2 separate regions of the Homo sapiens genome follow, and region 2 is linked to region 1. A link means that fine-mapping ties the variant in region 1 to the expression of a gene that starts in the linked region. Tissue or cell type: whole blood. Region 1 holds a variant in brackets; the other region holds the start of a gene. All regions are shown on one strand. Distances are from middle to middle.

What was found. PIP is the estimated chance that this variant, and not a neighbour inherited with it, causes the effect.
Region 2: LINC02207 starts here. The variant in region 1 is fine-mapped to the expression of LINC02207 in whole blood (INTERVAL, PIP above 0.99).

The regions. Positions count from the first base shown.
Region 1 is chr15:93,859,325-93,862,248 of GRCh38, reverse strand. The region is part of intron 1 of LINC02207 (long intergenic non-protein coding RNA 2207); the gene reads right to left. Among named protein-coding and RNA genes, the nearest start is that of LINC02207, 4.2 kb to the right of the region's middle. The variant G/C (reference allele first, on the strand shown) is at 1,258.
Region 2 is chr15:93,854,746-93,857,669 of GRCh38, reverse strand. LINC02207 (long intergenic non-protein coding RNA 2207) reads right to left here and starts at 1,110. Exons shown (of 4, transcript NR_120321.1): 1 at 1,074-1,110.

The sequences.
Region 1 (2,924 bases):
GATTCCCCCAAGCACTCTCCTGTACTCTGGCTACTCCAAGTCCTCCTCTGGGTCACCTCCTTTGACTGCTCCCCACTTGGCCTGTTCCCCTCCCTGCTTTCACATGATCCAGTGACTCAAAGCTGAGCGCCTGGTACAGCAGGAACTCCCAGTACCTGCTCCTGGGCTGTGCTGTCATCTGCTTGAACTGGTTGAGCCTCAACAATTTTATCTATTTTGACTATGACCCCTGATTAGAAGTTCAGTCAATTTTCCAGCTACAGTAGTCCATGAGGATACATTCCAGGCAACCCCCCTGCAGTGGTTGCCAGAAACCACAAATAGTACTGAATCCTATGTATATTATGTTTTTTCCTGTATATGGATACCTTATAATAAAGTGTAATTTATAAATTAGCCACAGGAAGAGATTAACAACAATTAATAATAAAATAGAATAGTTGAGTTAAATAATTGAGTACAAGCACTGCTGCAATACAATGGCCGCCGGTCTGATAACCGAGATGGCTGCTAAGTGACTAACAGGCAGGTACTGTCTACGGCGCAGACACGCCGGACACATGGATGCATCACGTCTCAGGCAGGATAGAGAGGGACAGAGAGAGATTTCATCACGCTACTCAGCAACAGTGCGTAATTGAAAACATATGAATTATTTCTTTCTGAAATTTTTCTTTTGATATTTTCAGACTGTGGCTGACTAGATAACTGAAACCACAGAAAGTGAAACCACAGATAAGGGGGGACTACTGTCATAAGTGGTAAGCTAGGTTTTGAACTAGGGCAGAGAGTTTCCTGGCAAGAATAAGGCCCCAGTGAAATATGATGAAAAATGATAGTAATGATGAACTGAAAATTTTTTAAAACTTTAAAATGGTCATTTGATGAATGATTTAAAAAGTAAAGGGTCAGAGAGGGTCAGGCAGGAACTGGAAAATGAGCATCGACTGCCCCTCCTCCCATTTTGTCCAGTGAAAAAACTGAGGCCATGGTCTTCCCAGTCATCTCATTGGGCATGCCCGGGTTGGGGATGGCCAGGCTTCACATCTCTGCTCTCTCCAGCATTGGGAGGATTCTAAAATGATTTTCCACAGGATGCTGATAGTCAATGGCAGCGACCATGATGGTAATACACTAGAAAAAAGAGCAACTGAAGAAAATGCAAATATAGCGGCAAATGTGCTTAAATTAAGGCAACAGCAATAAAAAAAACCAGAGGTAGAAAGTGTTAAGCCTTAGTTACCGCACCAAACAATT[G/C]ACATGCTTCCTACCCACCCTCAGACCTGGTTGTTAAATGCAAGCTATACATTATGCAGACCCGATAATGAAAATCTACATTCCATAATTTGCAACCTGCTGGCTCTGTTATGCCAAGTGCATCTTAAAGAAGGCATCTTTCAACCTAATTGCATGCAATTTTTCCCCATTCTAATTGTGTTATGAAAATACCACTATCTCATTCAAGCACAACCAGATCACTTTGCTTTTCCCCTAAAGCACACATCAGTAAAGCAAAACAAAACTGACGACTTTCTATTTTGCTATGCACCCAGGAATCCCAAATCGAAGTGTAATGGTTACTGACAAGCACTTTTTTTTCTGTAAGCCTCCAGGTCAGATGTTGGGAGATTTTTCTTGTTTCCAGGGTTAGGATTGCAAATAATAGCAACCTACACACATAGATAAATGTCTCAACCAAGGGTGATTTTGTCCCCCGTCTTCCTCACTCCTCAGGGACATTTGGCAAATGTCTGGTGGCATTTTTAGTTGTCATATCAGGGAGGAGGGTACTTGTATGTAGTGGATGGAGGCCAGGACTGCTGATAAATATTATACAATGTTCAGCACAGCCCTTCCACAAAAGGAAATATTCTGCCCAAGGTATGAATATTACCAAGGTTGAGAAACCCTGGAGTCTAAGGTAATGTTAAAGGACATTTGGTTAAACTCACCTATGGTAACACATTGATTGTACCCTTGTGTGTGTCAAAGAGTTTTAGGCCAGGCACAGCGGCTCACACCTATAATCCTAGCATTTTGGGAGGCCGAAGTGGGTGGATCACAAGGTCAAGAGATCGAGACCATCCTGGCCTACATGGTGAAACCCCGTCTCTACTAAAAATACAAAAATTAGCTGGGCATGGTGGCACGTGCCTGTAGTCTCAGCTACTTCCAAGGCTGAGGCAGGAGAATCGCTTGAACCCCGGAGGCGGAGGTTGCACTGAGCCGAGATTGTGCCACTGCACTCCAGCCTGGCGACAGAGTGAAACTCTGTCTCCAGAAAAAAAAAAAAAAAAGGGAAAAAAAGTTTTATTTGAAAAGACCACTCGTTCATGTAAATGAAATATATACTGTGTGCTCATCTATGGGAACCATAGCCAATTTCCACCAATGCCCTTGCATATGAGCTGTAGCCCCAGAGACCATGATTATCTTCTCCACTTGGAAGGGTAGAACTGATTAGTGCCAGAGCATGGGTCTGCCAGGGCAAAGGTAGCCTATTCAAGTCCTCCAACAGCAAAAATGTCAAAGAGTTCGTGGCAAAAAATTGTCCTTGGAGAGCATCGAGGAGAAGAAGTCAATATCTCAAATTCAAAAGAGTGGGAGAGTCCAAAGATGAGCCGCAAGGCTGAGGGTCCCGAGAATAATCAAACCAGTGAGAACAGTCTGCAGCAATAAATGGACATGTTGCTGCAGGAAAGGGGTCTGCCAGGATATAGCCGGGTAGCTGCAGGATATCCTCGTTGGATTCACACACACAAACACACACACAATCATGTTCTGCATAACAATGTTGTAGTCAACAATGGACTGCACATACAAAGGTGGTCCCATAAGATTAAAACAAAGCCACAAAATTCCTATCAATAGTGACATCATAGTCATTGTCGTGTCACAACTCAATGCATTACTCACATGTTTGT
Region 2 (2,924 bases), 4.6 kb after region 1:
GAACTAAAATATGACTCTTTTTTTTTTTTTCTGAGACAGAGTCTGGCCCTGTTGCCAGGCTGGAGTGCAGTGGCACCAGGACCAGGTTGGAGTGCAGTGGCGTGATCTCGGCTCACTGCAAACTCCGACTCCCTGGTTCAAGCAATTCTCCTGCCTCAGCCTCCCAAGTAGCTGAGATTACAGACACATGCCACCACGCCCAGCTAATTTTTGTATTTTTAGTACAGACGGGGTTTCACCGTGTTGGCCAGAATTGTCTCTATCTCCTGACCTCGTGATCCTCCCGCCTCGACCTCCCAATAAAATATGACTCTTAACAAATATAAAATGAATGTATGTAAAGATTTTCTTTAAGTAATGAGTGAACCAGTAAGATGTTACGATCAGTATGAGGGAGGATTCAAACAACACACACATCCGTGCAATCAGAAATGCTGAAATAAACAAACACAGAAGATGTCAATAGTTACTGGGCAATAATACATTTGATTCTACTGGACAAAGTTTATTTGCATTCCTAGGAAAAAGTCATTTGCATTCACATAAGCTTTCTACACATTACAGATTTATAAAATGGTTCAAAAGAAGTGCAGACCCCTATAGAATTAGGTAAAATGGAAAGGCAGCTAAAGAGGACACCTAGTAATTATTTTATCCATTTCAAAGTCTTTCCACAATTTTTCCTGACAGAGATAACACTTTAGGAAGAATATCCTAAGTTAATTGAGAAGCCATATGAGAAATAATATAACTATTGCCCCCAAACTAGCCCTGTCCTCTTATCCCCTCCTAACCACACACTAGCCGGCATCAGGAACCAGGACATAATCAGACAGCTCCTTTCCCGTCTCTCCTTTCCCAATCATACAATGCACATGCCACCTGTTCACCATTTTTTTCCACCCCTCACCATCCCATACCCACATAGATGTTCTCTTTCCCATTCTCCTAAACTTCCTCAAATATTCTTTCTAGGAAGGCTTATCTCAAATATCATCTCCTCATTGAATAACAATAATGATGATAATAAAAGCCACTAATTGATTCCTTAGCTCTTTAGCTCACCACCTCACCTTCACAACTATCCTCAGAGGTAAGCTGTTATCATTGCAATTTTACAGCTGGGGAAACCAGAGCTGAGAGAGCCCGAGCCTTTTTCATAAGGTCACAAAACTATTATGAGGTGGTAAATGCTTTACTACCATGAAATAAAAAGATTTCCTCTCTCTTAGAGCTTTAGCACTCTGTCCATGTGCTCACTTAGCTTTTTTATCACATACCACGTATGGCTGTTTGTCTTCTAGCTCTCCCATTTCTTCTTTATCATCTTTCTTTGCATAACCACAACCTCCCTGCCTCAAAGTTACCTGTGCCTCTGCTCCTCATGAGAAAGCAGATAGCATGTCCTATCCATGCATGGGTCCATATACAGGGTAAGCTTTTACTAAATAGAACTGAAAGGTGAGTTTTATGACAATATAAACACAAATATATTTATGTCATTATATTCTCTTTTGTACATTACCTGTAGCAAATTATCATGTAGGTATTCAATAATATTTTCTTCAAATTTGATCTCCAAGGGAAATTGGAAAAGAAAATCAGAATTTCTAAAACACAATTCCACAGGAAGAAACACTTTTTAAAAATATTTAATTTTAAAATTAAAGACAGGTTTAGCTGCAGGCAAAGTAATCAGCATGACGAATGAGGATGGGTGATTTGGTCTCCTACTCCAACTTTGCCGTCTGAGTTCCCTGGGCTCTTAGAGGCTCAGAGTATCCCAGGCTGGACGGAGTCTGATAAACTCCGTGAATGTGTGTGCACTGTAAGCTAACAATGGAAGCACTGGCGTGGTGTCTTAGAAAGTATTCCTAATATCAGTACCTCTTACCCTCAAAGGACTTGTTCAGAGCCAAACGCCAGGGACTTAGGTAGAGGAAACATTTGAGAGGAGGAGAGTTTTTATTAAGTTTCCAAACTCACTCTATGTATGTCAGGTAATTTGACCTCATGTGAGAGGCAGCTGGCTGTGGGAGAACTGAAGTTTGGGCTGGGCTTGAATATGTTTCCTTCATACGGTGTGACCTTCCCCAAGTTATGCAAATCTTTGAGTCCCAATCTTCATGCTTAAATGAAAATGATGCCTGCCTGTTACAATTGCTTAAGGAATTAAATGGAGGTTTTCTCTATTTGCACGTGTGTGCATGTCACAATACACACAGAGAGAAACCACCAGGCAATGAAGGCTGATTCCATCCCTCCCCTGGTTAGTTCATATGATTTCTGAGCCTGCCAGAATTCCTTCCAGTGAAATGAAACTAAGGGAGAGAAACATCCCAAGGCCTGGATGCCTGGAAAGATTTTACCTAATGAATTTTCAGTTTATTTGTTATAAAAGTGAATTTGGTCTGATTGAAACAAAGTATTCACAGCTTTTCTGTGCTTTAAAATGTCATTACAAAAATGCAATTCTTTTCAAATATCTATTTTTAAACTTTATTTTCTAACTTCAATCTCAGGCCTTGATAAAAAAAAAAAAAAAAAGATGCTTAGTAATGTTTTGCCTTAGGAAATATTTTAAAAAGTTACTACCATAGGTTTATTTGACATCCAAGGACACATATATAAATAATTCAGAAGGTGGAAGTTATGGCAGAGGTCCATTTGTGATTAATAAGCCTAGAGCCTTATCAATAACATAATTTGAAGACTTTCAGCAATCTTCTACCGAATGCCTCCTATTCTCAAAGTAAACACATTGATCATGTAAATAGTGCTCTTTTTCTTTTCTAACTTGAGTGTATTTTTCCTCGCATTCAATGCTTTGAAGAGTAATACCTTCAGCCATGTAACAGGAGTTACTTTCTCCTCCTCTCCCTCTCTTTATCACCCTCTCTATCTCAGCAGGTATCTACTGCAGC